Linked DNA regions of Homo sapiens: region 1 is linked to region 2. A link means that fine-mapping ties the variant in region 2 to the expression of a gene that starts in the linked region. Tissue or cell type: whole blood. Region 2 holds a variant in brackets; the other region holds the start of a gene. All regions are shown on one strand. Distances are between the middles of the regions.

Region 1 (2,767 bases), 31 kb after region 2:
CGGGGTTTCTCCATGTTGGTCAGGCTGGTCTTGAACTCCCAACCTCAGGTGATTCACTGGCCTCGGCCTCCTAAAGTATTGAGATTACAGGCGTGAGCCACCGCGCCTGGCCTAATTTTTGTATTTTTAATAGAGATGGGTTTTGCCATGTTGGCCAGGCTGGTCTCCAATTCCTGACCTCAAGTGATCCACCCGCCTTGTCCTCCCAAAGTGTTGGGATTACAGGCGTGATCCACCATGCCCAGCCTTCATTCCTTTTCAAAGCTGAATAATATTTCACTATATGTATAACCACATTGTTTATCTATCCATCTGATGATAGCTACCTGGGTTGTTTCCAATTTTTAATTTTTTAATTTATTTTTAGTTTCATTTTATTTTTATTTTCTTTCTTATTTATTTATTTTATTTTTTGAGACAGAGTCTCCCTCTGTCACCCAGGGTGGAGTGCCATGGCTCGATGTCAGCTCACTGCAACCTCTGCCTCCTGGGTTCAAGTGATTCTCCTGCCTCAGCCTCCTGAGTAGCTGGGATTACAGGCATGCACCACCACGCCCGGCTAATTTTTGTATTTTTAGTAGAGACGGGGTTTCACCATGTTGGCCAGGCTGGTCTTAAACTCTTGACCTCGGGTGACCTGCCTGCCTCAGCCTCCCAAACTGCTGGGATTACAGGTGTGAGCCAAGATGCCCAGTGGAGATTTTTTTTTTTTTTGTGGGATGGATTCTCGCTCTTGTCGCCCAGGCTGGAGTGCAGTGGTACGATCTCGGCTCACTGCAACGTCTGTCTTCCGGGGTCAAACGATTCTCCTGCCTCAGCCTCCCGAGCAGCTGGGATTACAGGTGCACACCACCACGCCTGGCTAATTTTTATACCTTTAGTAGAGACGGGGTTTGGCCATGTTGGCCAGGCTAGTCTCAAACTCCTGCCCTTGGTGATCTGCCCGCCTCGGCCTCCCAAAGTGCTGGGATTACAGGCATGAACCACCGCGCCAGTCCCGAGATTTTTTTTTTAAACCTCTGTACTTTTACCCTTTCTTCCTTGGCTGGACTTTGTCCAGCTAGGTTTATTTATAAACCACACAAAGTTCATTAACAAGACCAAGCATTCAGCAAGCCACTCTTCCACCTCCCTTACTGCAGGAAGGCACTCCGAAGACATAAGTCGGTGAGACATGGCTGAAGATAAAAGCAAGAGAGACTCCATCGAGATGAGTATGAAGGGATGCCAGACAAACAACGGGTTTGTCCATAATGAAGACATTCTGGAGCAGACCCCGGATCCAGGAAGCTCAACAGACAACCTGAAGCACAGCACCAGGGGCATCCTTGGCTCCCAGGAGCCCGACTTCAAGGGCGTCCAGCCCTATGCGGGGATGCCCAAGGAGGTGCTGTTCCAGTTCTCTGGCCAGGCCCGCTACCGCATACCTCGGGAGATCCTCTTCTGGCTCACAGTGGCTTCTGTGCTGGTGCTCATCGCGGCCACCATAGCCATCATTGCCCTCTCTCCAAAGTGCCTAGACTGGTGGCAGGAGGGGCCCATGTACCAGATCTACCCAAGGTCTTTCAAGGACAGTAACAAGGATGGGAACGGAGATCTGAAAGGTACATGCCCAGAGATCATTTAGGGTGGGTGCCAGGATGAGATTGGTTTATGGTTCTTTTGTTCTTCAGAACCAAATTATGCCTGGGTTGTTCAGTAAGCACATTCCATTATGACTGGTCATGCCAAGTTGCTCCTTGTTTATGATATTCTTAGAAAATCACTCAGCAGAACCCAGCAGTTATTTTACTAGCTGAAGGGCTATTTGCTGAAGGCCTTTGAGCCAAACGAGTTGTTTAATTTATTGCCCACTAAGTACATACAGTTGTTCAGTCATCAATTCTAACTTCTTAGAGCAGCCTTCCTTCTAAAATCTATGTCCTGTTTCTGGGGACTTTATAGTTGAATATGTCAGGGTGGCAGTTGGGAATTGCTTTCCCAGTATACGAAGCAGCTAGTTTGGCTGTGTGGCTGGGAGTGTATTAGTGAATAAAGCATAAATAATATTTTTTTAAAAATCAAGTGATATCTGTAAAAAGTATAGGCTGAGTCTTAAAGTTTAAATTCTAAAAAAGGAAGGGAAGTAGAAAAGGGGTAGCAGTATGCATTCGTCATTACTTGAATTAAGGATTGTTTAAAACCATGTCCGTATTAGTATAAAACAAGTAAAGAATTAACCAGGGGTAGTGGCGCATGACTGTAGTTGCAGCTACTTGGGAGGCTGAGGTGGGAGGATCGCTTGAGCCCAGGAGCTCTCAGCCAGCCAGCTTAGGCAACATAGGGAGACCCCGTCTCCAAAAAGAAAAAAAAAAAAGTGAAAAATTATTTTTTAAAAGCTAAGTTAATTTCTTGGTGGGTTATGTGTAAAACATCCTTACAATATATTGCTCAAACCAGAACATACTTCAGAGTAAAATTATGCCAGATGGCAGGCATACACTGGGAACTTCTGAGCAAATTGGTTGGTATGGTCACTCTACTTCAAGGCAACAATAGGAAACAAATAAGGAAACTAACAAACTAATGTTTTACAATGATAATTGGTTTGAAGAAAACAAAACAGGATGATATGAATGTGGAAAGTAGGAATGGGCTTAATGTATCTTTAAAATGCTACAAATGAATTCTTGAAACCTGCAGCTTTCTTTAATCACTAGTAGAAGGCTTTTCTTTTTCACGCTCCTATCATTCTCTCTCTTCTTTTTTTTTTTTTTTTTTTTTGTGA
Region 2 (2,767 bases):
TTTCTTACACAATAACTTTTTGTTTCGATGCCAGCTTTTCCTACAGGCAGAATAAGGGCTTTCTACTCACTATGATTGGAGCGGTACTAGAGAGAGGGCTAAGATGCTCAGAGCTGAAGAGTATAAGAGAGCTCTCCTTGGTCAAAAATATTCCCTTTTACCCTTCATATACACTTTTAAATCAAATAGGATTTATTTTGTTTTATTTTACTTTAAAAGAATTGAAAATTTACATACAGTAAACTACAAAGAGCTTTTGTGTTAAATTTGATATGTTTCAACAAGTGTCATACTTTTACATTCAAAATTTTCAGAATTTTCTTTAACAGTTTCATCAACCTTCAGTTGCATACAAAGACAATTTTTTATATCCTAAGTAAATATTTACATATATTTTAAGACATTGGCCTTTTGAATATTTGTACTTTAATACAACTGGAACTTATTTCTGAGGTAAAAATCTAATATAACATTTTCCTATAGATTTTTCCATTATCCCTTTATACCAGCTGTTACATAAGCCAATCTTTTCTCATTATTTGAAGTTGTCCTTTATGACATATTCATGTATATGCTTGTATTTTTATAAGCATTCTATTTTATCGTTTTGTGTTGTGTGTCAGTACCATGTCATCTTAATTATCATAGTTTTACTATACATTTTATTATCTGATAGGGAAAATGCCCCTTATTATTCTACATTTACAAAAATTGAATGTGTTTATTTTTCCAGATGAATTTTTCAATAACTTGGCCAAGATATCCCTGCCAAATAAAAATCTCATTAATGTGTTGATTGAATTGTTGTATGTGTAGATTAATGTAGGGGTCATTGGTATCTTTAGCCAAGGTGAGTTCCACCAGGAAGATGCTACATCTTTCTATTTATACAAGTGTTTTTAATGTCCCCAGTACAGTTTTGTAATTTTCTCCATATGATCTACACCGTTCTTAAATTAATTCCTTGTTATTTTATATTTCTTATTGCTGTGATGAGTGAACCCCCCTCCTCAGTATATTTTAAATGTATACCTTCTTAGACAACTAGTTTTATTTACTTACCAACCCCAATCCTGCAAGAAAAAAAAAAACCATATATATATATATATTTCAATTTCTATCATATCCACCAGATGGCAGTCTTGGGCACGTCCATCTGTAAACCTGCTGAGAGC[T/G]CTGGTGACAAGAAAGGCAGTGGCTGGCAGACCTTCCAAGCACTCAGAAGCACGCGGACAAAAAGGTTTTTTTGTAAACCCGAACGAAAAATAAACCCAGCATTATATAATTATAGTATTTGTACTGCTGTTAACCTTTAATCTTATAACCCATTAGTGGAGACAGAGAAGGACTGTCACTGTGCCCTTCAAAATCATATTTTTTCCTGTCCATGTGATAAACACCTGTGGCTTCTTGGCAGCACTTTTGGTTTGATTCCAGGGACTCTTATGGTTAAAGGCAGGCTTTAATCTGGCGTTGTTTTCCTTCTCCTAAAAGCACCATTTAAATCGGAAGTTACTGGATTTCTAAACGGTTAAGACCGTCTTCCGACTGGTTTTTATCATTCCCAGATCTCTTCTGAAAGGAGGTGGTGTGCATAGTTAATATGAAAGGAACTGGCTTGTTCTACGCGAATACAAATCTGAATAACTCTTATATATTAGACCTTTTTTTTTTTTTACTTTAGTGACTTCCAGTATCTATATTTAGAAGTGTATAATTACTTGAGATATATATATATATATATACACACACACACACATATATAGTGTGTGTGTGTGTATCTATGTGTATATATATACATATACACATGTATTTTTAGGGCTTTTGGCTTTTTTAGGGCGGGACACGTGAATCTGGCAGTTGAGACAGAATTTTTCCTATAGCGGTGTAACAGTGTACAATACTAAACTAATGAAATGTCTTTCACTATCAACAATTTACGTATCCATGCTGATTGCTTTAACACTAGAAAAAATATGCCAAAATAAACTACATTTTCTAGGCGCTTTCACACCAAAAACACACACACACAGCTGCTTGCCCATTTGAGAACAGCCAATAAAGCAAACTCTTTGAATGATTTGTGGTTTTGTGTCCCCAGAAGTTTTAACAGTAGTTCTGAAGATTTGTCATTTGTGTGTGCTTCAAAGATAGAGTAATACATTTTATAGCTGGGCAGATCTCTAACTATATAGTTATAAAATCTCAAAGCTGAGAAAACCCTGAATGCCAGATGATCTTTCAGCAGCCTCTAGTGTGAGTGTCAGGAATGAGTTCATTTCCATCTTTGATCAGCTCTGCCTGTCGTGTTGCATCTCTGCTTCTTCTCCTCAGTTGTCTTATTAACCCTCGGGGCTATGAAAATAAGTATTTAAAAGCTCCTGGAACCCACAAAAAACACTAAGCCTTGAGAGAGATGTAGTTGATCTGAGTCACATATGCTAACAACTTTTTATTTCCCTGATTATTCTTCCTGTTCTGTACAATGACTAGAGAGAATAAAACTACATCAGGTACAAAAACCACCTGCCTTCTTAATTAATGACCTTTGTTATAGATTAACTTCTCCTTTGTTGTCCTGCTTCACTTAGATCAGATGACAGAAAACCCATGACTACACCCTCTGTAAAAGGTGTTCAGTGTACCTTTCCCAAGAGAAACACTGCCTGTAACCAAATTGCTGTAACTATGTGCCAACCTTGTATGAAAAATGTTGCAATCCTGCCAAAAACTCCTGTCTCTGCCTATGGAAATGAAACCTTGAGCT

What was found. PIP is the estimated chance that this variant, and not a neighbour inherited with it, causes the effect.
Region 1: it holds the start of SLC3A1, and the variant in region 2 is fine-mapped to the expression of SLC3A1 in whole blood (TOPMed, PIP 0.95).

Annotation. Positions count from the first base shown.
Region 1 is chr2:44,274,362-44,277,128 of GRCh38, forward strand. SLC3A1 (solute carrier family 3 member 1) reads left to right here and starts at 1,119. Exons shown (of 10, transcript NM_000341.4): 1 at 1,119-1,604. The coding sequence starts at 1,175.
Region 2 is chr2:44,243,095-44,245,861 of GRCh38, forward strand. It overlaps a transcript of PPM1B not described here. Among named protein-coding and RNA genes, the nearest start is that of SLC3A1, 31 kb to the right of the region's middle. The variant T/G (reference allele first, on the strand shown) is at 1,176.